5 separate regions of the Homo sapiens genome follow, and regions 2, 3, 4 and 5 are each linked to region 1. The links come from fine-mapping of genetic effects on plasma protein levels. A gene starts in region 1. Each other region holds a variant in brackets. All regions are shown on one strand. Distances are between the middles of the regions. Region 1 holds the start of PLAU (plasminogen activator, urokinase). Region 2 overlaps CFAP70 (cilia and flagella associated protein 70). Region 3 has its middle 3.9 kb from the start of MICU1. Region 4 has its middle 15 kb from the start of C10orf55. Region 5 holds the start of C10orf55 (chromosome 10 putative open reading frame 55).

The links. PIP is the posterior inclusion probability: the model's chance that the variant is causal. The UK Biobank Pharma Proteomics Project read protein levels with antibody pairs (Olink). The fine-mapping took linkage between variants from a reference panel, not from the people measured, so its PIPs are less certain.
Region 2: its variant is fine-mapped to the plasma level of the PLAU protein (UK Biobank, PIP above 0.99).
Region 3: its variant is fine-mapped to the plasma level of the PLAU protein (UK Biobank, PIP above 0.99).
Region 4: its variant is fine-mapped to the plasma level of the PLAU protein (UK Biobank, PIP 0.94).
Region 5: its variant is fine-mapped to the plasma level of the PLAU protein (UK Biobank, PIP above 0.99).

Annotation. Positions count from the first base shown.
Region 1 is chr10:73,907,951-73,913,053 of GRCh38, reverse strand. It overlaps PLAU (plasminogen activator, urokinase), which reads right to left and starts at 1,922. Exons shown (of 11, transcript NM_002658.6): 1 at 1,836-1,922; 2 at 1,442-1,529; 3 at 986-1,013; 4 at 732-839; 5 at 1-130. The coding sequence starts at 1,498. C10orf55 (chromosome 10 putative open reading frame 55) reads left to right here. Exons shown (of 5, transcript NR_160938.1): 3 at 1-11; 4 at 770-854; 5 at 959-3,085. RefSeq lists enhancers at 1-23, 3,642-3,691, 2,941-3,891, 3,247-4,446 and a silencer at 1,376-1,975.
Region 2 is chr10:73,340,714-73,345,816 of GRCh38, reverse strand. CFAP70 (cilia and flagella associated protein 70) reads left to right here. Exons shown (of 28, transcript NM_001367801.1): 6 at 573-752; 7 at 4,236-4,418. Among named protein-coding and RNA genes, the nearest start is that of CFAP70, 16 kb to the left of the region's middle. The variant C/T (reference allele first, on the strand shown) is at 2,880.
Region 3 is chr10:72,627,393-72,632,495 of GRCh38, reverse strand. No RefSeq gene overlaps it. Among named protein-coding and RNA genes, the nearest start is that of MICU1, 3.9 kb to the right of the region's middle. The variant A/G (reference allele first, on the strand shown) is at 2,626.
Region 4 is chr10:73,935,076-73,940,178 of GRCh38, reverse strand. No RefSeq gene overlaps it. Among named protein-coding and RNA genes, the nearest start is that of C10orf55, 15 kb to the right of the region's middle. The variant C/T (reference allele first, on the strand shown) is at 2,245.
Region 5 is chr10:73,918,876-73,923,978 of GRCh38, reverse strand. C10orf55 (chromosome 10 putative open reading frame 55) reads left to right here and starts at 1,202. Exons shown (of 5, transcript NR_160938.1): 1 at 1,202-1,346. RefSeq lists enhancers at 2,512-3,158, 3,159-3,807. The variant C/T (reference allele first, on the strand shown) is at 2,095.

The DNA.
Region 1 (5,103 bases):
CTGTGGGCATGGTACGTTTGCTGAAGGACAGTGGCAGAGTTCCAGGGCAGGCAGGGCCGGCCCATGGTGTCAGTGCTGGCCTTTCCTCGGTAAAAGTGACCATTCCCCTCATAGCAGGTTTTTGACTTATCTACAAGGGGACAGGAGGATGAGAGAATATGAGAAAGAGAAGAACATTCCAACTAACTTTTATTTTTTTTTTTTGAGATGGAGTCTTGCTCTGTCGCCCAGTTGGAGTGCAGTGGTGTGATCTCAGCTCACTGAGATCTCTGCCTCCCAGGTTCAAGCAATTCTCCTGCCTCAGCCTCCCAAGTAGCTGGGACTACAGGCATCCACTACCATGCCAGGCTGATTTTTGCATTTTTAGTAGAGGCAGGGTTACACCATGTTGTCCAGGCTGGTCTTGAACTCCTGACCTCAAATGATCCACTCACCTTGACCTCTCAAAATGCTGGGATTACAAGCGTGAGCCACCATGCCCGGCTGCCAACGGACATTTTAAAGATGTCGTTTCAGACCTGCCAGAAGACTGGACAGGGTCTCCTTCCAACCCCACCTCACATTTGTGTGGCCACTGTTTCGTGAGCGTGTGTGTGTGTTTATGCTTGTCACATAGGGATGAAGATGTCACCCACCCTACCTCCAGCTCCTAACTCCTGCCTGCTCTTGCCTCCCACCCATCCCTCCCTGTCCCCAAATTTCTCTCCCAGTTGCAGTGGAGATCCCCATACCTATTTCACAGTGCTGCCCTCCGAATTTCTTTGGGCAGTTGCACCAGTGAATGTTGGAGAAGTACTTGTTGGACACACATGTTCCTCCATTTAGACAGTCACAGTTCGCTGGAGAGAACAAAGGTGGGGTAAGCGAGGGGGAGTGGAAGTGGTAAGGGGTGGCGCAGCCCTGCAGCAGAGGGCAGGGAGGGGATGTCCCCTGAAGCCTTCCCAACTTGTCTGTGCAGCCAACTGTTGTAGGGGTGGATACTCACATGGAACTTGATGAAGTTCATTGCTGCCCTGGAAGAGATTCGGGAGGAGGCTTCATCAAAGGTCCCATGCTCCAGGGACTCCAGGGTGAGGGTAAACTGGCCCCAATCCCAAAACCCACTCTTCCCTCTCCCTCTCGCCTCACCCTGTTCGTATCTAGTTCTCAAATGGAAGACCATGGGTTTCCAGCCAGGAGAAATGGATTGACCCAAGCAAGCTTCATCTACCAGATGCCCGCAGGCTGGGGCAGTCCCGGCGGCCTCTTCCTCCCTTGCCAGCCAGTGCCAACCCCCGTGGTTCTCAAGCCTCCGCTGCCACCCTGTCCCATTTCCTGGGGAGAGTCTGGCCCTGCTGTGGATGGAATCCGGAGGACCCCAGCTCCCTGAGCAGCCCCTCCTCTCCCCTGGTGCTGATCAGAGGTCCTTGGGCAGCATCAGTCAAAGCAAGAGCGCACTCACTTTGGAGTCGCTCACGACCAGGACGCAGAGAAGCAGGCGCGCCAGCAGGGCTCTCATGGTGGCGAGGTCGGGGCGCTAGACGGCGGCTCTGCAAAGGAAGGAGAAGTCAGGGCAAGAGGCGGAGGAACGGGAAGGCAGGCCAGGCGGGCGACTGCAGCGCAGGGGAGATGCCCGCGGTGACCAGGCTCCCCAGCTGTCTCTCTCCTCTCTGGGCTCCGGACTCCGGGCAGCCTGGATCGGCACCCGCGGGGGACGCCCGGGACGGGGCGCCTTGACTCCGTGCAGCCGCCGGGGAGCCCAGGGAGCCCGGGCAGCCCAGGGCGGGGGAGGCAGACGCTCGGGAGCTGGGGCCGCCGCGCATCCGGCCCGGGGATCTCAGGACCGCGGCACTCACCGGTGGCTGCGGCAGGAGGGCGCGAGCCGGCGCTGCGGGGACAGGTGGACCCTGGCCCGGGCTCCGGGGCTGCGGTCTCCGCACTGTGCTGCGACCCGCGGCGCCTGCTCTATATCAGGGCCCGCCCCGGCGCCGCCCCTCCCTCTCCCGCCCGGCTCCCTCCCCTGTCTTGCAGCGCTCAGCGACCCGGACCCCGCGTGCTTCCGCAACGCTCACAAAGATTTGGGGGAAGCGCGATCTCCAGCGGAGGGGACCCAACAGCGTCTGGACTGAGGAATCGAGAGGCTTGTAAATTCTCCGTGCTTCCTCCCATGCACCTGGCCGGGGGCCTGCCCCAGTGCAAGGAGTCCCCGAATTGCAGAGAGGAGAGAAGGCGCACAGGAGACTCTCTACCTCGCCCAGCTCTGAAGCCTCCTGGGGTCCTCTAATCAGTTCTTCTGCAACTTCTCCCCGCTGGGCCCCAACTTGCCTAAGACTGCCTCAGACCCCCTTGCCCGCAGCTGATGGAGCTGTGAAGTCTTCATCAACGCGACAAATGTACGAGACATACTCTCCCAGAAGCACAGACAGAAAAACCCCTGCCTGTAGGGGCTCCCTCTGTGCGTCTGTTCAGTGGCAGTCCCCAGATATCACCAACACAACCAGTGGATGGAACAAAGCCGGGCTTATTGCTTTCGGCAGTAAGGGGGTTTGTTTGATGGTGCTATCAGAGGGGGAAAGGCAAGGCCAGATTACTGAAAATTTGCAGCTTGGTTTAAAGTCCGTTTTTGACAGGGCTTGATAAGGATTGGGTTAGGTGTCGTGATATGATGTTACAGGATTGTGGGAACAAAGTCCTAGGGCATAAACTGTTGGTGCTTCCTATTGAAGTGTTAACGGGTCTTTTGGGAAGTTTCCATAATGAGCAATTCATTTATTTGTGCAGGCAAGAATAAAAGTAAAGACAATGGAAACATGTAGACAGTTCTAACTGTGGAGGTTCTGGAGGGTGTGGAAGTTCTGTTCTCACCTCTGAGTAGAGGAATTGGGAGACTGGAGGACAAAATAAGAGGAAGATTTATTTTTCACTGTTTGTCCTTTTACACTCTTAACATTTTAAAAAGCACATCTCTGTATAGCCCATTCCAAAAAGATAATTATGCATTTTTTAATGCATGTGTATTTAGTGTTTTACTTCATCATAGAGCCTTGTTTATTCTATTCAGATAGAAACAATTGTTTATCAAATAAAATTGTCCTCCAGAAAAACAGACCATGTGTAAATGACTGCATCCACCCTTCCTGCCTGAGGATAAGCAGACATTTGTGTATACACACACACACACACACGCATCTCTGGGCACACTTGGAGGAACATAGCAGGGATTCTGTGATTCTGTCACCCCCATCTCTTTCCCCTAGTGTCAGGAACCAGGGCTTGGGGTCATTTTGAACCCAGTAGGACTCGCTCTCTTAGTGGGAAGGAGGAGGCTGAGTCCCAGCAATCCACTAGCGGCTTTGGGCCCTTTCCCAGCCTAGGCCTGCAGCATTTTCCTGCCTTGCAAATCTGGACCTTGGGTCTGGGTCCACCTGAGAGTGACAGAAGGAAGGCAGGGAGAGTGCCAGGAAGGTAGGAAGGAGGAAGGCTCCTTTGCTCTGCCCCAGCCGAGGGCTCAGGGTGCCAGCTGCCTGCTGGGGAAAGTACAAGTTAGCCTTTCAGCTTTTGGGAGGCAGGTGACCCACTGTCTTCTGGAGAGACTTCTGTGCTTGCTGAGCTGCCAGCCTTCCAGGGGACAGACTGAGTCAGCGATGCTATAGGCTTCAGAGCCAACCTTGCTACTTCCTCTAGAAGACTGTGGTCAGTTTTGTTTGGATTTGAGAACCCATTAATTGTAAATAAACGTGACCAGAACATAAACAGAGATGCTGCAGCCTGAGGACTTACCCCGAAACTCCCAGGTTAGTTATCAGGAAATTCCCAGGGACCGTCATGATTCATGTTGCTCCCCTAGCAGCTCTCATGACTCCAGATTACTTGGCTGGAGGCTGTCATGCTGATTGCTGAGAGCAGATGACTTCATTTCCTCCTGGACAAAGAGGTTTGGAGACCGTTATGAAGCGTGACACCCTTTCTCCCCTTCCGCCCCCTCCTCCCCCGTGCCACCTCTTCACCTAGCACTTCAACTCTTCACAGAACTTCCTTATCCATGCGCTAATCTTTAGCACTCTCTGAAATCTTTGTGCACAGTTCTTTTTTTTTTTTAAAGACAAGGTTTTGCTGGGCTTCTGGGTTCAAGGGGTCCTCCCACCTCATCCTTCCAAAGTGCTGGGATTACAGGCATGAGCCACCACGCCCAGCCATATTTTTTTTTTTTTTTTTTTGAGACGGAGTCTCGGTCTGTCACCCAGGCTGGAGTGCAGTGGCACAATCTCGGCTCACTGCAAGCTCCGCCTCCCGGGTTCACGCCATTCTCCTGCCTCAGCCTACCGACTAGCTGGGACTACAGGCGCCTGCCACCACACCCGGCTAATTTTTTGTATTTTTAGTAGAGATGGGGTTTCACCGTGTTAGCCAGGATGGTCTCGATCTCCTGACCTTGTGATCCGCCCACCTCGGCCTCCCAAAGTGCTGGGATTACAGGCGTGAGCCACCGTGCCCGGCCCCAGCCATATTTTTTATATTGTATTTCTGTCTTGTGCTTCAAGGCACATTAATGTAAACCATTTCTCTTTAAACTCATAACTGCCTTATGATATAGACTGGTATTGTTGTTCCCATTTTGCAGATATGGAAAATGAAGTGGAGAGAAGATACACAGTTGATGAGCAGCAAAGCCAGCACTAAAACCCAGCGTCTTCTGATCCTTGTTCCTATGCGCTATACCTCACTGTCTCCATAAAAGACAGAACGCTGTGAAGGGAGGGGCCAGTGAGCTAAGATGATCCAGCTCAGGGGAGCCCTCCTCCTGACTTTGGAGACCTCCTTCCAGAAAGACTGCTCGGACTATGGACTCTGAGCTCTTAAGTTGCACCCGCTGTAATACAAATTAGTTGTTTGCCTGAATTCCAAGAACTGTCTCTGTGGTCTAGGCTGTCTGAAATTTCTGTTGAGGGTAAGAGAATAAGGAACTGAATGTGTATGATTTCATTCTTTTCCTGACTCCTAGGGTGAAGCCACCAACCCCTGCCTCTGTGTCTCAAGGGTACAGAGCTCCTGAGTCAGATGTGGCAACACAGACTGCTGGAGAAGCCCTTTCCAGGAGATTCTCATAAAAGGGAAGGCAGATGC
Region 2 (5,103 bases), 570 kb after region 1:
CATTTCTTTTGTTTTTTTTGAGATGGAGTTTTGCTCTTGTTGACCAGGCTAGAGTGCAATGGCACAATCTCAGCTCACTGCCTCCCTGGGTTCAAGCGATTCTCCTGCCTCAGCCTCCCCAGCAGCTGGGACTACAGGCGCGCACCACCATGCCTGGCTAATTTTGGTATTTTTAGTAGAGATGGGTTTTCACTGTGTTGGCCAGGCTGGTCTTGAACCCCTGATATCAGGTGATCCACCTGCCTTGGCTCCCAAAGTGCTGGGATTACAGGAGTGAGCCATCATGCCTGGCCAACATTTCAACAGAATCTTACAATTCCTGTTTTATATGTATTTATATATATACTTTACCTCAGTATGATAGAGTGGGAAGGGATCTAGTTTAGGGTTAAGATTCTCTTCTTGGCTCTATCTCCAACTCATGGGACTTAGAGAACATGGTTTCAACTTATGGAAATAATTAAGCTTTACCTTCTTATCTTGAACAGTAATATGAGATTCAAATGAGATAATGCAAAAAAGGAAGATCTCTGGCAATTTTCAAAATGCTGCATAATTTTATTCTTTTACAGCAGTGCAGTCTTGAAGTTAAAGTATTAGTGGCAGAGCCTTTACTGACCACAGCCCAGATCTCAGGGGGCAATCTACTGAAGGTCACGTTGGAGGCTGCTTACTCTGTGCCTGAATCCTTCATTCCAACAGGTCCTGGGCAGAACTACATGGTCGGTCTGCAAGTTCCATCACTTGGAGAGGTAAAGCCCTACTGCCAGATATTTATAGAGATTCAAACATGTCTGTACTCATATGGCCATCTCTTCCTCACCTCTAAGATTTCATTCAAAGCATTGCACTGCTAATAGCTGAGATTTATTTTAGGCTTGAAAAATACAGTTTATTTCTATTTTATATACAGATCTTAATGTTTATAATTTACATATTATATATTATGCATTAAATATAATTTATATAAATATATGGTGGAAAATATGTAAGATTTAAAATGGCCAATTTTGGTGTATTTCTATACAGATTATTTTTATGTGTACATTTTGCAGATTTTGTGCAACGTGCTTTATTAAACAAAACTTTCTCTTAATTCCAGATTATTTTCTTAGGCCAAATTTCTAGGTATAGGAATGATTGGATATGGAGTTTCTTAGGCTCTTGATGGAGATTTCTAACTTGCTTGCTAAAAGGCTTCTTCTATTCAGTTAACACTTCCACTTATCTTATTTCCAGGGCCATGTATGTGGATGACCCACTAAAGTTGTGTAGCAACTGTTCAGTTTGCTGAGGACTTAGGAGGTTCCTGGGACATGGGACTTTCAGCACCACAACTGGGACAGTCCTAGGCAAATGAGATGGCTGATCACCCTTCCGGGGAACAGCCCACATAGTTATATGAGGCAGATCTGTGCATTGCCCTCTCTCCAACTTTGAGATTGTATTGAAAATTTTCTCTTTGTTTTTGCTAATTTTGATAATTAAAAGTGTCTTTTATTTTTTTTCTCCTGGAGGGCTTAGTATTTTTCTTGCTGATGTATTAAATTCTGGCTGGGGTGCAGTGGCTCACGCCTGTAATCCCAGCACTTTGGGAGGCTGAGGCAGGTAGATCAACTGAGGTTAGGAGTTCGAGACCAGCCTGGCCAACATGGTGAAACCCTGTCTCTACTAAAAATACAAAAAATTAGCTGGGTATGGTGGTGGGTGCCTGTAATCCCAGCTACTGGGGAGGCTGAGGCAGGAGAACCACTTAAACCTGGGAGGCAGAGGTTGCAGTGAGCCAAGATTGCGCCAAGATTGTACTCCAGCCTGGGCAACGAGTGAAACGCCATCTCAAAAAAAAAAAAAATTCTTCATATGTAGAGAAAAATAATATTTTCTTTCAAGTTTGTCAATTTATAGTTTATCATATTTATTTCTGGTTTATTATTTATTTTTAATTTGGGTCATTGCTTTGGTACACAAAAGTTTTTTAATAGTTAAATCTTTTTCTTTTAGGTTTCTTACATCATTTTAAACTTGAAAAGGGCTCCTTTATTCTGATGTTTTATGAAAGGTTGCCCTACCAGGTCCTAGAATTCTTTTTTGCTTTGCTTTTGGAGATGGAGATGGAGTCTCACTCTGTCGCCCAGGCTAGAGTGCAGTGGCATGATCTCAGCTCACTCCACCCTGTGCCTCCCGGGTTCAAGCAATTCTCCTGACTCAGCCTCCTGAGTAGCTGGAACTACAGGTGCCCACTACCACGCCCAGCTAATTTTTTGTATTTTAGTAGAGAGGGGGTTTCACCATGTTGGCCAGGCTGGTCTTGAACTCCTGACCTCAGGTGATCCGCATGTCTCAGCCTCCCAAAGTGCTGGGATTACAGGTGTGAGCCACCACACCCAGCCCCAGGTCCTAGTTTTATGCAGTAGTCTTAGTTCCAGCTTCCCGTCCTGCCTGAGCATGGGGCCATGATTGCTTCTCTATAATAGTGTCTGGGTCTGACATTTCCTGGGTTGGCGCAGCATCAGCTCATGAGCTTATCCCTTGGGTACTGAGTTGCTGCTGCTGCCAGTTCTGGCACTTTTAGACTTTCTTTTTCTTTCTCTTTTTTTTTTTTTTTTTGAGACGGAATCTCGCTCTGTCACCCAGGCTGGAGTGCAGTGGTGCGATCTCGGCACACTGCACCCTCTGCCTTCTGGGTTCAAGTGATTCTCCTGCCTCAGCCTCCCGAGTAGCTGGGACTACAGGCACCCGCCACCAGGCCCGGCTAATTTTTTGTATTTTTAGTAGAGATGGGGTTTCACCGTATTAGCCAGGATGGTCTCGATCTCCTGACCTTGTGATCCGCCCACCTCGGCCTCCCAAAGTGCTGGGATTACAGGCGTGAGCCACTG[C/T]GCCCGGCTTAATTTTTGTATTTTTAGTAGAGATGGGGTTTCACCATATTGGCCAGGATGGTCTCGAACTCCTGACCTTGTGATCCGCCCGCCTCGGCCTCCCACAGTGCTGGGATTACAGGTGTGAGCCACCGTGACTGGACTAGACTTTCATTTACTTCTTTTGACCTTGGCTATGTGATAAAATATAACTCTTTTTTTGTTGTTGCTATTCTACTTTATCTAGTTTGTTGTGTTTGTTGCTGATGAAGGCTCTGTTGTACTTTAGTTTGCTATAGTGTTGGAAATAGAACTTCCTTTTAATTTAAGGGCCATTTATTTATCTTTTCCAGTAAACTTCTTGTTCCTGTTCTTTATCTATCTATATATCTCTCTATCTATCTATCTATTAATAAGAGACAGGGTCTCACTCCATCACCTAGGCTGGAGTGCAGTGGCACAATCATAGATTACAGTAACCTTGAACTTCTGGACTCAAGCAATCCTCTCACCTCAGCCTCCCACGTAGCTGGGATTACAGGTGCATGCCATTGCATCTAGCTAATTTTTAATTTTTTTTTTTTGTAGAGATGGGGGTCTCACTATGTTGCCCAGGCTGGTTTCAAGCTCCTGGCTTCAAGTGATCCTCCTGGCTCTATCTCCCAAAGTGGGATTATAGGCATTAAGCCACCTTGCCTGGCTGATATCTCATTGTTTTAATGTGCACTTTACTGATTATTAATGAAACATAGCATGTTTTTGTTTAAATGTTGGATGTTCTAATTTCCCCTTCTATAAATTGCCTACTTATATATTTTACCAATTTTCTACTGCAAGTATACTTTGGATAAGTTATAAGACATGAAAATGCCTATATTTTTAGCCCCTTGCCAGATTTTAGTTCGTTTTCTAAAGGATAATTTTTAAACAGGTATAAGCACAACTCTCATATAAATATAAATAACACAGAATTTGGTCCAAGATTTTATTTAACTAATTAATGAGGGAATCAGTAAAATGTGACAATGAGTTCAAAGGAGTATATAGGCATCAGGAATGCTGAAATGAATTTGCCAATAATTCAAAATTTGTCATTAGCTTCAGGGAAATAATCAGTTACATTGCCACTGGACAAACTGTATCTGCATATTTATGAACAAGAATAATTTGCATTATTATCAAATGTCTATAAGTTACAGAGTTGTAAAATAGCACAAAGGGAATGAAGGGCACAGGCCCCTCTCTAGAATCAGATTAATCGTAGAGGGGTATGTTTGATAACACTCAGCATTCCATTGAAAAGACACTTGAATAATCTTCTTGTCCATTTCAAAGTCCTTTACAAATTTTCCTGACATATGGTATCTATTTCTGTAGAAGGACTATCCCATTTTATTTAAGAATGGAACTCTGAAGCTTGGAGGGGAAAGGGAACCTGTTCCCCGGCCCAAAAAGTGGCCAATTGCCAACATTCTGGCTCCAGGAGCTAATAACATTCCTGATGCATTCATTGTTGGTGGTCCCTATGAAGAAGAAGAAGGAGAACTCAACCATCCTGAGGTGAGAGCCTGATATACAGGTTTTTGTGATAAACTTAGTGTACTGACAGATGATAAAACATTTTGTGAATTACTGTAATTTATATACATTTGTCACCTGTCGAAATACTTACATGCCAAAATAAAACACATATCTAATTCTGATTCAAATATCTTCTGGCTTCTTAAGTCCAGAAAACAAAATAATTTATATCACATGTACTCTTTATTTTATTTTAAATTTACTGATTTATGAATAGGTAATTATCAGTTACTGTCAAAATTAAAAATGAAGATGTATGCAGTGAAAGTGTCCCTCTAGTCATGTCTCTTCCTTCTAATTCCTCCCCATCTCATTACCCTAGTAGTGATGGCAGCAGTGGCCAGTCTGGAGCAGCTCCTGCCATGATGCTGGCTGCAGTGGGGGAGTCCTGACTGGGCCTACACGCTCCATGGAGCTGGTGGGAGCTGGGAACAAGTGCCCTCCCATGTGCAGCTGCAGCTGCCCAACCACAGCTGCATACCCAGGCATCTCTGCACTCTTGGAAGCTGGGAAGCCCTCCTGCCCCCACAGGCTTGGAAGTGCCTGCTCCTGCTGCCTGGCCTCTGCCTACTCCTGGTGCCTGCTCCAATTTTGGAGCAAAGCTGTGGCCAAGCCTGGTGCTGTCACAACCTGGCCAGGTGCGCATGTGCTCAGGGAAGTGCTG
Region 3 (5,103 bases), 1.3 Mb after region 1:
TCACAGAATGCTCCTCAATATGGGTTTGGTTGATATTTCCTCATGATCAGATTCAAGTGATATTGTGTTCTTCTCAGAGTACTATATCATAGGGATCAAAGTGTTGCATAGTTTCTGTTATATAGTTACCATTTCCTTTTGTAAAAAATATAAAATCTGTGGGGAGATGCTTTGAAACATAAAAATACCCTGCTTCTCATAAAATTCCCTGCCCAACCCCTGCCGGATTTAACTGATAATGTTTGCCCAAACCAATCTTTACCATGATAGTTGCAAAATGGTGGTTTTCCCAACTCCACCACTCTCTTTGGATTTATCAGCAAGTAGTCTACTTTAAGGAAAGCCACTGTCTGATTTCCCCATTTCTCTTTCTCTCCTTAATATAGATTGTTGGATTCTTATTTTATTCAGTGGCTGTAACTTACTACTGTTCTTTTTTTTTTTTTCTTTTGAGACAGTCTGGCTCTGTTGCCAGCCTGGAGTGTAGTGGTGTGATCTTGGCTCACTGCAACCTCTGCCTCCTGGGTTCAAACGATTCTCCTGCCTCAGCCTCCCGAGTAGCTGGGACTACAGGCACGCACCACCACACTCAGCTAACTTTTGTATTTTTTTAGTACAGACACGGTTTCACCATGTTGGCCAGGATGGTCTCAATCTCTTAACCTTGTGATATGCCCGCCTCGGCCTCCCAAAGTGCTGGGATTACAGGCGTGAGCCATCCCGCCCAGCCACTTATTACTGTTCTTATGCTGGTACTCCAATTATCCCAGATTTGGCCAGTGATGGGCCTTCAAGCTGGCTCCCTTTGACATGTCCTCATTTTATTTTCTGATTGCTTCCTTACTTTTGGACACAACAAGATGTTCCAGGTCATCTTGTACATTCCTGCTGTAGACTTGAAACCAGCCCTGTTTTCAAGAAGACTTAGTTCCTTTTTGTGGAGAAAGGTAGTTCAGAAATCAAGATCTGGGCAGAGATTCTTTAATTTTGAAGTTAGTTTCAATCATAAAATCAAGGAGAATATGTCAATTTTTATAAATCATCATATTTATGCCATCCTCCCACCTCCTAGTGGTAAAAAGCCAGGAAACATTTAAGCTTTTTTAAAATTTTTTTCATATTTATTTGAACATAATTAATTCTGGCTATAAGTATTAGAGAAGAATACTCACTGCAAGAACAACTATGGGTCATAAGTCTCTAGATAGCTACTCAAGTACAATATAACTTCAAAAAGGTTGGGTGTGGTGGCTCACACCTGTAATCTCAGCACTTTGGGAGGCCAAGGTGGGTGGATCTCTTGAGCCAAGGAGTTCGAGACCAGCCCGGGCAACATAGTGATATGTTGTCTCTACAAAAATTACAAAAAATTAGCCAGGGCTGGTGGTTTGCACCTGTAGTCTCAGCTACTCAGGAGGCTGAGGCGGGAGGATCACTTGAGCCTGGGAGGTTGAGGCTGCAGTGAGCTGAGATGGTGCACTGCATTCCAGCCTGGGCGACAGAGTAAGACTCTAAGACTCTCTGTCTCTTTGTTTCTCTGTCTCTGTCTCTGATATATATATTCAAAAGGAGTTTGTGATGGACGACTGCATAGGTTTTGAGATACCATAATCTATGGAACCCTGAAGATAAGTGTAATAAAACAAAGACCATCTCATTGAATTCATTTTAAAGAAACTGAATGAAAGCTTTAGAAAATAAACTTTTTGTAGTCTGATACTTGTTGCAAAAGATGTTTTTGTTTTTTACAGTGGTGTGATATGTTGGAGACTGCTGTGGTAACACATATTATTTTAATGTGATAAGAATAGATGAACTATAAAATGTATGACATAAGGACACCAATTTCTATTTTTAGTGAATGACATTAAATACTGTCCCTTGATAACACAGATCTTTCAACACAACACACTTTTGAAATACTGAAGATGAAATAAATAAACATTATATTTTGCATATGATAGTATGATAGTCCTGGGGGCAAAGATCAAATCTATTTGTCAAGTATACAGGACTTAGTATTCATTCCCAATCCTATCATTGCAGGGGAATCACCTGGGACTTTTAAAATCCAGATTCCAGAGCATCACCCTGGTTCACTGAAGCAGTGTGTCTCATGATCCAAGAATCTGTATTTTAAAAATCTCCTCAGATAATTCCCAGGCATTTGATCACCAGACTGGTTTGGGAACTACTGAACTTGTTAAAAAATACATTTTTACGGTGGTGCAAGTCTCATTATAGATACAAGTTGCCCAAGGGCAGGAATCGAGCTTATAAATTTTTACAAGCCCAGCACTAGTTGTGAGCATTACATATATTAATATGTAGGTATTCAATATATGTCTGTGAAAGAATTTTGACTTCAAATTTTATTGGTCACCAGAGGAGTCTTATTATTAGTTTGTACAGGAGATATAAACCTTGATTAGTGATATCATACATTTATATGACTCGGAACACATTGCATAGCATCCTGAAAAACAATACTGAATTGATGGACAGATTTCTAATGTAGAATATAGCTGTGTTTGGTTATGACCTTGAATTCTGCTAACTTACTCTATACTCTTGGAAATGAAGAAGGAGCTAGATGCGGTGGCTCACGCCTGTAATCCAAGCATT[A/G]TGGGAGGCTGAGGCGGGTGGATCACGAGGTCAGGAGTTCGAGACCAGCCTGGCCAAAATGGTGAAACCCCATCTCTACTAAAAACACAAAAATTAGCCAGGCATGGTGGCGCATGCCTGTAATCCCAGCTACTCAGGAGGCTGAGGCAGGAGAATCACTTGAACCTGGGAGGTGGAGGTTGCAGTGAGCCAAGATTGTGCCACTGCACTCTAGCCTGGGTGACACAGCAAGACTCCGTCTCAAAAAAAGAAAAAAAAAAAGAAATGAAGAAAGAATACTCACATCTCATATTTATTTGTATAAGATTGGCCTAGTCTGTAAATTGTCTCTGTCTTGTTCTCCTTTCCATTAAATGTTCTACTTGATGCCAAAATGACTAGACAAAATATACAATAGCATTTAACATTTGTATGGTTTAAAACAGTGGTTCTCAAAGTGTGGTCAAAGACCACTGGAGGTTTCCTGAAACCCTTTCTAGTAATCTGTAAGGTCAAGACTGTTTTCTTACTAATACACTGTTATTTGCCTTATCGCTCTAATTCTTTCTTGAGTATATAGTAGAGTTTGCCAGAGGCTACATGAAGTGTAAGAGTGCAAACATTTAATGCAGAAAAGATACAAGAATCTGTCTTCTATTAAGCCAGACATTAAAGAAATTTGCAGCCGGGCACAGTGGCTCATGCCTGTAATCCCAGTACTTTGGGAGGACGATGTGGGCGGATCACGAGGTCAGGGGTTTGAGACCGGCCTGATCAACATGGTGAAACCCCGTCTCTACTAAAAATACAAAAAAATTAGCCGGGCGTGGTGGCATGCGCCTGTAATCCCAGCTACTCAGGAGGCTGAGGCAGGAGAATCACTTGAAACCGGGAAGCAGAGGTTGCAGTGAGCCGAGATCGTGCCACTGCACTCCAGCCTGGGCGACACAGTGAGACTCTGTCTCAAAAAAAAAGAAAAGAAATTTGCAATAATGTAAAACCATGCTACTCTTTTTTTTTGAAGTTGTTTTTCTTAAGAATACATTATTTATGTCAACATATAATGGATCTATTATTTTTAAATGACTAAGTACACATTAAAATAATTTCAATTTTAATTTTCTTTCTTTTCTCTTTTTTTTTTTTGAGACTGAGTCTTGCTCTGTCACTGAGGCCTAGGCTGGAGTGCAGTGGCATGATCCTGGCTCACTGCAACCTCTGTCTACCGGATTCAGGCGATTCTCCTACCTCAGCCTCCTGAGTAGCTGGGATTACAGGCGTGTGCCACCATGCCTGGCTAATTTTTGTATTTTTAGTAGAGATAGGGTTTCACCATGTTGGCCAAGATGGTCTCGAACTCATGACCTCAGGTGATCTGCCGCCTCTGCCTCCCAAAGTGCTGGGTGCCATTGTACCCGGCCTCAATTTTAAGTCCTCATATGCTAAATTAAAAAAAGTTTATAGAGACAGGTTCTTGCGCTGTTGCGCAGGCTGGAGTGCAGTGGCATGATCATAGCTCACTGTAGCCTCAAAGTCCTAGCCTCACGTGATCATCCCATCTCAGTCTCTCAAAATGCTGAGATTATAGGTATTAGCCTCTGCCTGGCCGAATATGGTAAATATCGATAGGTATAACACACATAAATAAAAGTTATTTTGAGTCCTCAATAATTTTTAAGTGTATAGGGGTCCTAAGACCAAAACGTTTGAGAAACAATGATTTATGTTTTTAAATGTTATTTAACAGTTAGTTTGACTGATTAGTTTTATATAGACAAATGTTGCCTAAAATTAGAATTGAATTTCAGCAAATCTTTCTTTCTTTTTTTGAGACGGAGTCTCGCTTTGTCGCCCAGGCTGGAGTGCAGTGGCACGATCTTGGCTTACTGCAAGCTCTGCCTCCCGGGTTCCTGCCATTCTCCTGTCTCAGCCTCCCGAGTAGCTGGGACTACAGGCGCCCGCCACCACGCCTGGCTAATTTTTTGTATTTTTAGTAGAGACAGGGTTTCACCGTGTTAGCCAGGATGGTCTCGATCTCCTGACCCGCCCGCCTCAGCCTCCCAAAGTGCTGGGATTACAGGCGTGAGCCACCGCGCCCGGCCTGAATTACATCATTTAAGAGTGGAAGCCTCAGAGGCCTTCAGGTCAGGTCTATGTCCCGCTACTGCATGTACTGCATTACCTAGGGGTGTCAGCCTGCTTCCCTATCTGCAAATGAATAAAACAGTATCCATCCTAGAGTGGTTGTAGACAAGCACTGGGTTGTATGTAAAGCGCTAGCACAGAGCCATGAACACAATCATCTATTGTACTTAGGTTAGTTGGGTCTGAGAAGAAATGGAGAAAACAGAGTTGATTCTGCTTACTTCACAATTTACCCCAGGGATGGTTTTGTTGGCTTTGTTTCCATGGTTGTTGCCTTTTCCACAGCTCTGCTACGTAAATTCTTGGGAAAAAAAAATTATTTGAAAGTTCTCTGGGACCAGCGAGGTGGCTCGC
Region 4 (5,103 bases), 27 kb before region 1:
CTCCAGCCTGGGCGACAGAGCAAGACTCTGTCTCAAAAAAAAAAAAAATGTTTATTACTTCCCTTTCAAAGCTCTAGATATAGATAGATACAGATTTTTAATGCCAAAACAAAGTTACTGAAAGTGTGGTATATCTCAAATGTGTATACTTAGCAAGTCAAAGCTGTGACCCCCACACCCAAATAAATAAATAAATGAGTAAAAGAAAGCCAGGCATGGTGGCTCACGCCTATAATCTCAGCACTTGGGGAGGCTGAGGCAGGAGGATCACTTGAGTTCGGGGGTTCGAGACCAACCTGGGCAACAAAATGAGACACCATCTCCACAAAAAATACAAAAATTAGCTGGGCATGGTGGCGCATGCCTGTAGTCTCAGCTACTTGGGAGGCTGAGGTGGGAGGATCACTTCAGCCCAGTAGGTCCAGGCTGCAGTGAGTGGTGATGACCCACTGCACTCCAGCCTGGGTGACAAAGCCAGGCCCTATCTCAAAAAAAGAAAAAATGCCCAAAGCTGTATTTTGTATTTTTTGTAGAGAGAAAGTCTCACTTTGTTGCCTAGGCTGGTCTCGAACTCCTGGGCTTAAGCGATCTTCCTGCGTCCGCCTCCCAAATTGCTGGGATTACAGGCGTGAGCCACCGCGCCTGGCCCCGTTTTATTATTTTATTATTTTTTTTATTTATTATTATTTTTAAAAATGTTGGCCGGGTGTGGTGGCACACACACACACACACACACACACACACACACGCAGAGAGAGAGAGAGAGTTGACGAAAAGAGTCAAACTGTGTAAAATATTTGAAGAGATTTATTCTGAGCCAAATATGGGTGACCATAGCTTGTGATACAGCCCTCAGGAGACCCTGAGAACATGTGCCCAAGGTGGTAGGGGCACAGCTTGGTTTTATACATTTTAGGGAGGCATGAGACATCAGTCAACACATTTAAGATGTACATTGGTTAGATCCAGAAAGGGGGGACAACTCAAAATGGGGAATGGGGTACAGAGCCTTCAAGATTATAGGTAGATTAAAAAATTTTCTAGGCCGGGTGCAGTGGCTCATGCCTGTAATCCCAGCACTTCGGTAGGCTGAGGTGGGCAGATCATCTGAGGTCAGGAGTTTGAGACCAGCCTGGCCAACATGGCAAAACCCTGTCTCTACTAAAAAATACAAAAATTAGCCGGGCGTAGTGGCAGGCACCTGTAATCCTAGCTACTCAGGAGGCTGAGGCAGGAGAATCATTTGAAGCTGGGAGGCGGAGGTTGCAGTGAGCCAAGATTGCACCACTGCATTCCAGCCTGCACTCAAGACTCCATCTCAAACAAACAAACAAAATTCTCATTGGCAATGGTTAAAAGAGTTATCACTAGAATGAAATATCTAGGTTATGATAAGAGGTTATGGAGACCAAAGTTTTATCATGCAAATGAAGCCTCCAGATAGCAGGCTTCAGGAGAGAATAGATTGTAAAGGTTATTTATCAGACTTAAGGTCTATGTTGTTGTTAATGCTGGTCAGCTTTTCCTGAATTCCAAAAGGCAGGAGGGCATTATGAGGCAGGTCCAACCCCCACTTCCCCTCATGGCCTGAAAACAGTTGTTCAGGTTAACTTTGGAGTGGCCTGGCCAAGAGGAGGGAGTCTCTTCAGATGGTGGGGGTAGCCTTAGATTTTTATTTTTGGTTTACAACAAACACACACACAGAGTCCCATACACACATATGTGTATATATACATATATAATGCAACATAACAGAGCAATTCACAAGCCATATGAAGATAATGAGTTTACAGCACACCATAGGGCTGGTAATGGTAGCAAGTTTAGGATGCATGTCTTCACCTGATCCCGCACAGTGAGGCTGAATGTAGCTCTGACAGGTGTGTGACCCCACACATTTAAGGTCTGTATCTGAGGCCCTACATAATCTGAGGCCTTAGCCAAATGCCCCCCCGCAGTCCACTGCCTACTCTCCACCCCCATCCTCATGGTCCAGGCCACCAAGAAATATTATACTCAATGAAAAGTGGAGAAGAAGCCAGGGAGTCCAAAGTTACTGGGCCTCTTCCTCCAGTTCCCAACTTGCCACCACAGTAGAGAAAGACTCTCAGCTGGCTTGGGGAACACAGTTGGACAGCGAGGAGGCAGCTTCTCTGTTCCTGGGCTGCTCTCTGTATCAGCCTCCACCCCAAAAGTCTCCACCTTGGTCCATTATCCCCTCTCCTTAGGCCCCAGAGCCTCTTC[C/T]TGTGTTTGTGTTGTTTTTGTCAGAGCAGGAAGTCTTCCTGGAAATCCACCAGAAATCCAACATCCTCCTCCTTCCCCAGGGGACCCTGGCCTTAGGCATACACCCCACCCCACCTCAGCTCTGGCTGAGGCACAAGGCCAGAATCACAGGAATCCATCTTCCCAGGAACCCTGCCTTGCCCTCAGGCTCTGCGTCAGCCCCATCCTACCTCCCCACACTGCAACACTAAGAGCAGCAACTCCCTGCAGTAGAAAACAGCAATAAGGGAGAAAAAGCTCGTCATTTCTAAAGGAAATGTGAAAAACACAGAAGTGTACACAGAAGAAAACCACCATAACCTGGATGTCCACTATGCCGCTCTTTTTGGTATCCCTTTTCCACCAGAAGCTGACAGCTGAACCATGACTCCCCAACCACATCTGCACACATGCACAGGCTCTCCAGCTTCTCCTCCTTGTTTGGCTGTCAGAATCCTCACCTCATCTAGTTGGTGTGGGAGAGGATAAGGCTAAAGTGAGAATGACCGACTGTGTTCACTCTCCTGTGTTATAGACTAACAGCTGAGGGTATCCTTGGAGTCCATGAAATACCTGTCCTGCTAGATGCTCCTGGAAGAGGGAGTTCTGAGATCATCTATGTTGGGAACACCATCTACACGGCCCCATCCTGTATCCATCAGGTTGAAGTCCAAAAAGTGCTAAAAACTAAGTTTTAAAAAATAACAGGCTGGGTGCTATGGCTCATGCCTGTAATCCCAGTACTTTGGGAGGCCGATGTGGATGGATCACTTGAGGTCAGAAGTTTGAGACCAGCCTGGCCAACATAGTGAAATGCCATGTCTACTAAAAATACAAAAATTAGCCCAGTGTGGTGGTGTGTGTCTATAATCCCAGTCACTAGGGGGGCTGAAACAGGAGAATCGCTTGAACCCAGGAGGTGAAGGTTGCAGTGAGCCGAGATCACACCACTGCACTCCAGCCTGGGCAACAGAGCAAGACTCCGTCTCAAAAAACAAAACAAGACTTAGGGGTAAAACCTGACCTAAAATGATGTTGTGGCTTTTCAGATTTTTTACTTAGCCTACTTAGTATGAAGATGCATATGTTTTGCTGCAGAAGTATGTGCTTGATTACAGGGCCTGCCAGCTCTTCTGGGTGCAATGGAATAAATAGTGGAATAAATAGCATATTCACCATTTACCTTATTAAAACCTGAAATATTCTGAAATCCAAATATATCTGGTTCCAAGGGTTTTGGGTACTGGATTGTGAGCTGACTAAGTTCATTGTATGGATGTTTAACCTGTTCAAAGCATATTAAGCCTTGTTGTAGACAAGAAACTAACCTCACATAACATTCTCCAAATTTATTTGGCTACAAACCCCTTTGTTCCACTTGCTACCTATAAATATATCACAAAATTGCCATGTGGACCCTTGGGAAACATGGAATGTTTCGAAGACTTTAACTCTCTAATAGTGAGTTTTCAGATGTAGAAAAAGGGTAGATCTTCCAGAGGGCTCTTAGATCCCAGGCCCTAAGACTGGGCAAGGTGAGAAGCTGGTATAGGGATGACTGAGGCAAGCCTTTGATGGTTTACATGGGCCCGGGACAGGGCCATGACCTGCTGGAAAACCTAATTAAGACAGACACATATGTCAAACCAGAGAATCAAATCAGAAAGCCAAACAAAAATCAGGAGGAAAACAGTTAAAAGTTGAGCTAAAGATCAGAAACTAGAAGATTTTCAGGACTTAAAGCGCTCAGGGCTCTACGTTCCCAACAACAATGAATCTCTGAGACTAAGCCAACTTTCGCCTCACCCTGTGAGCTTTTATAAGCTTCCTGGAAAGATCTGCACCCATTCTGTAGTTTGCAGGTAGAAAGACAAGTGAGAGCTCCTGGTTAGCCTGTTAAATCCCTGAAGAGGCAGCTGGGACCCACCTAATGTCCTCTCTTGATGCAGGAGAAGGTATTATATTCAGGTACAATATTGAGGGACTTGTGAGAAGAGCAGATTCAGGCAACAAGCATTTGAATCCATTCTTTGGGTCTCCAGTTTCTCTGCTGCTGATGTTACAATTCTTTGAAATCATGCATTGACCAAACGTGTTGGACTTGGGTCCCATGTCTCAGCATGATCAGAGCAGGGTGCCCTGGTCTGGCAGAATATGCTGGTGAGGAGTTGGACATCTTGGCTGGTACCCCTTAACAGTCCCGGACCTGAGAGGTGGCAGGAAACCCCTCAGAATTAGTTCTGGGTAACTCTAGGGAAATTCATTAGCAGTTTCCTCTGGGCTCTTAAGGCTGGTGCTTGGAAGCAGCAGGAACGTCAGGAAAGGATGTGCTGTGTCCATCCCAGGCTTTACTGGAGCTGACTCCTGTCTCTTGCTGCTATAAGTACAGTATTTACAAGGCCTTTAAAAAATGTCTCTTCCTGCCCGGGCATGGCAGCTCACACCTGTAATCCCAGCACTCTTTTTGGGAGGCCAAGGTGGGTAGATCACTTGAGCCTAGGAGTTTGAGACCAGCCTGGGCAACATAGTGAGACCCTGTTGTCTCTATTAAAAATATAAAAATTAGCCAGGCATGGTGGCACACACCTGTCAGCTACTCAAGAGGCTGACATGGGATGATTGCTCCAGCCCAGGAGTTCAAGGCTGCAGTGAGCTATGATTGCAGCACTGCACTCCAGCCTGGGCAACAAGCAGGCAAGACCCCATCTCAAAAAAAAAAAGAAAGAAAAAAGAAAAAACTCCCTTCCAAAATTCTCACGCTCACCCCTTGACTACCTCTCTGTGCCTGCCCTCTACAACTTATTCTCTAGGATTTCTCAGTTGTGACGTTGATATTTTGAG
Region 5 (5,103 bases), 11 kb before region 1:
TCATTGCCCCCCAGAGTTCTCCACCACAATGGACTATTCCTCATTTCCTTAGAACACCTCACCTTTTCATGCCTCCATGAACTTCCCTACGCCTACAATGCCTTTCTTCTAGTTTGGCAAATTTCTGTGTGTATTTGAATGTCCAGGTAAAATATCACCTCTTCTGTAAAGTCGTCATTGACTTCACCAGGCAGAATCAATTGCTTCTTCATTATTTTTCCATGCATTTTATGCAGACTTAGTATAGCACTTTGCAAAGTGGTGAGCTCCTTGAGGACTAGGACTGCCTCATTTGTATCTAAAATAATGTCCTGTGTATGGGTACTTTAAAAAAATGACAAAGGGCCGGGCGCAGTGGCTCATGCCTGTAATCCCAGCACTTTGGGAGGCCGAAGCAGGTGGATCATGAGGTCAGGAATTTAAGATCGGCCTGGCCAAGACGGTGAAACCTCGTCTCTACTAAAAATAGAAAAAAATTAGTGGGGCATGGTGGCAGGCACCTGTAATCCCAGCTACTCGGGAGGCTGAGGCAGAGAATTGCTTGAACCTGGGAGGCAGAGATTGCAGTAAGCCGAGATTGCGCCACTGCACTCCAGCCTGGGCGACAGAGCGAGATTCCATCTCAAAAAAAAAAAGAAAGAAAGAAAGAAATGACAAAGATTGTTGAATGAATCTCAATGTGACTGAAACCTCAAAAAGAGACCTAGAACATCCTTTTTTTTTTTTTTTTTTTTTTGAGATGGGGCCTCTTTATGTTGCCCAGGCTGTTCTGGAACTCCTGAACTCAAGGGATCCTCCCACTTTGGTATCCCAAAGTGCTGGAATTTACAGATGTGAGCCACTGCACCTCGCCTAGACCATCTTTTCCCTCAATTTGTTATTAAAACTCAGCAACCTCACTGACACATGCTATGCCATGGATAAAACTTGAAAACATCATGTTAAGAGTGAAAGAGGCCAGTCACAAAGAACCACATATTATAGGATTCTATTGATATGAAATGCCCAGAATTGGCAAACCCACAGAGAGGACAGAAAGTAGTAAATTAGTGATTGCCTAGGGCTGAGGGGGTTGGGGAGAAAAACGGAGTGATTGTGAGTGGGTACAGGATTTCTTTGTGAGGTGATGAAGTGTTCTAAAATTGATTGTGATGTCTCACAATTCTGTGAATCTACTAAAAACCATTGCATTGTACACTTCAAATGGTGCCAGACGTGGTGGTATGAGCCTGTAATTCCAGCCACTCAGGAGGCTGAGGTGGGAGGATCACTCTGGCCTAGGAGTTTGAGATCAGCCTGGGTGACAGAGCAAGACCCTGTCTCTAGAAAAGAGAAAGAATAAATGGGTAAGTTGTATGATATATGAATTATATCTCAATAAAACTGATTTTTTTTCTTTAGAGACAGGGTCTTGCTCTGTCACCCAGGCTGGAGTGCAGTAGTGCAATCATAGCTCACTGCAGCCTCGAGCTCCTGGGCTCAAGCAATCCTCCCGTCTAGGCCTCCCACAGTATTAGGATTACAGGTGTGAGCCATTGCACCTAGCCCAGAATTGATTTTTAAAAAACACCTCAGCAACTCCTCTTACTTCATCTAATTCAAAGGGAGGGCTTAAATGTTTCCTTCTTGGAAGGAAGGTGGACCCAATGGGAGTGAGTATGGAGGGGTATAGGCAGGGGTGCTGCTGTGGTCAGCTTGGGAAAGATAGGGCATACGTGGAAAGCAGGCTGAGTGCTGTTAATATAATGGGCTGAGAATACTTCAGAAAGAGGGGTTCTGGTGAAAACGGAAACCACTTCAATGAAACCAGATTGCAGCAGAAAGGCTGAGGTTACTGTGAGAACAGTGAAGTTTTACTTTGAAACCAATGGCTGAGTGTGGTCTCCTCATCTGGCCTGGGAATCTTCTAGGAGGAAAGAATTGTTATCTAGGAGAGGATTAAAATTCTGATAGATGAGGCTGGGCGCAGTGGCTCACGCCTGTAATCCCAGCACTTTGGGAGGCCGAGGTGGGTGAACCACGAGGTCAGGAGTTTGAGACCAGCCTGGCCAACATGGTGAAACCCCCGTCTCTACTAAAAATACAAAAATTAGC[C/T]GGGTGTGGTGGTGCACGCCTGTAATCCCAGCTACTCAGGAGGCTGAGGCAGGATAATAGCTTGAACCTGGGAAGCAGAGGTTGCAGTGAGCCGAGATGGGCCACTGCACTCCAACCTGGGCGACAGAGCAAGACTGTGTATGGAAAAAAAAAAAAAAATTCTGGGCTGGGCGGGTGGCTTACAACTGTAATCCCAGCACTTTGGGAGCCCAAAGCGGGTGGATCACAAGGTCAAGAGACCGAGACCATCCTGGCCAACATGGTGAAACCCCGTCTCTACTAAAAATACAAAAATTAGCCGGGCGTGGTGGCATGTGCCTGTAATCTCAGCTACTCAGGAGGCTGAGGCAGGAGGATCACTTGAACCCGGGAGGCGGAGGTTGCAGTGAGCCAGGATTACGCCACTGCACTCCAGCCTGGCAACAGAGTGAGACTCCGTCTCAAAAAAAAAAAAAAAATTCTGATAGCTGTTGCCTAGAAACCCAGCAACCATAAAGTAGAAAGCTTGAAAGGGGGGCTGCTCTCCTTTTGCCCTAGTTGGACTCTCCTGAGAGGTGATAAATCCTAGTACCGCGCATGAGGACTCTGGAGATGGCTGCCTGGGTTCGAACCCTGACTCTTTGCATTTGGAGCTGCATTGCCTCGTGCAAGTCACTCAATCTGTCTGTGCCTCCATTTTCTCTACTGTTAAATGGGGCTAGTGATACTACCTTCCTCATAGGATTCTTGGGAGGATTAACTCAGACAACACATGAATAATTTAGCACAGTGTTGGTCTGGCATGGTGGCTCATGCTTGTAATCCCAGCACTTTGGGAGGCTGAGGCGGGTTGATCACTTGAGGTTAGGAGTTTGAGACCAACCCGGCCAACATGGTGAAACCCCATCTCTATTGAAAGTACAAAAAATTAGCCAGGCGTAGTGGCGGGCGCCTGTAATCTCAGCTACTCGGGAGGCTGAGGCAGGAGAACTGCTTGAACCCGGGAGGCAAAGGTTGCACAGTGAGCTGAGATTGAGCCACTACACTCCAAACTGGGGGACAGAGCAAGACTCCATCTCAAACAAAAAAAAAAAAGGCCGGGCACGGTGGCTCACGCCTGTAATCCCAACATTCTGGGAGGCCGAGGCAGGCGGATCACGAAGTCAGGAAATCAAGACCATCCTGGCCAACATGGTGAAACCCCATCTCTACTAAAAACAATACAAAAAGTAGCCGGGCGTGGTGGTGGGCGCCTGTAATCCCAGCTACTCGGGAGGCTGAGGCAGGAGAATCGCTTGAACCTGGGAGGCGGAGGTTGCAGTGAGCCGAGATCACACCACTGCACTCCAGCCTGGGCGACAGAGCGATACTCCATCTCAAAAAAAAAAAAAACAAAAGCAAAAACAGAAAAAGCACAGTGCTTGATCGTGGAGGCACTAATAGGAGGCAGTCTCTGGAGTGAGAATCTGGAACTGTGAAACTGGTTGCTGGAGAAGCGGCTGATGCCTGCTAGCCTGGGGTGAGATCTAATATTAGGCAAAGAGACAGCAGCTGGCTGGGGGTCAGGGTGTTGGCTGGGAAATGGCCTGAAAATTGTTAACAGCCTCCTGGCTTAACCCTGCCAGTAGGGCTCATACTTCCTGTTTTCAGTGTCTCTGAGCCCTGATGCTGGAGCTGCTCAAGTTTGAACAAGATCTTTCTTGGCCCCTGAGGGGAAGGCAGAAACTGAACAGCCACTCGGCTTGGGCAGCTTCCTAGCAGGTTTCCACTCCCGCAAAATAGTGCAGTTCTGAGGTGGGAGAGGGCAGAGGGTTCCCATCTGATCTGATGCTACAATAATTTACTTAGCTTTGTAATAATAACCACCGTTTTTATGCTTTTATTAGGTGCCAGTATTATGCTAAAGGACTTATGAACTCATGAATCCTTTCTGTTGTTGTTGTTGTTGTTGAGACGAAGTCTTGCTCTCTGTTGCCCAGGATAGAGTGCAGTGGTGTGATCTCGGCTCACTGCAAATTCCACCTCCCAGTTTCAAGCAATTCTCGTGCCTCAGACTCCCGAGTAGCTGGGATTACAGGCATATGCCACCACGCCTGGCTAATTTTTGTATTTTTTTTTTTTTAGTGGAGACAGGGTTTCACCTTGTTGGTCAGGCTGGTCTCGAATTCCTGGCCTCAGGTGATCCGCCCACCTTGGCCTCCCGAAGCACTGGGATTACAGGCTGAGCCACTGTGTCTGGCCTTCATGAATCCTTATAACAACCCAGGGAGGTAGATTGTATCATCTCTTTTGTACAGATGAGGAAACTGAGGTGCAGAGAGGCTAATAACCTTTCTCAAGTCACACAGCTGGTGTTAGATTCTAGTTCAGGCCACCGGACTCGAAAATCCATGCTCTAAACCACTGCATCAACCTGTGTAAAACAGCACACTAGATGATGGGGATCAAAAGCCGAATACTAATCCCAGTACTTTGGGAGACCAAGGGAGGCAGATCACCTGAGGTCGGGAGTTCGAGACCAGCCTGGCCAACAGGGTGAAACCCCATCTCTACCAAAAACACAAAAATGAGCCGGGTAGTGGTAGTGCATGCTTGTAATCCCAGCTACTTGGGAGGCTGAGGCAGGAGAATCGCTTGAACCTGGGAGGCAGAAGCTGCAGTGAGCTAAGATTGCGCCACTGCACTCCAGCCTGGGTGACAGAGTGAGACCCTGCCTCAAAAAAAAGAAAAAGCCAAATACTTGGAGTTCTTGCCCTCTAGGGAAGCACGGTCCAGAAAGCCTTTAACCAGGAAATCCAGGAGACCTTGTGCCACCAAACCCCACTCAGAAAACTGGCTGTTCATGCAGAGAACTCATGCTGACCATATCTTGAATTTTTCTGGGCACTTCATATATTCTGACCAATTGTCCCCAAAGGCTGTCAATCAGTGGTGCATGTTAGTAACACCGAGGGAGCTTTTCTAAAACCACGAGACCTGGAGCCAGCCCTGACCTGAATCACAATCTCTACAGGTGGAGTGTAGGTGTGC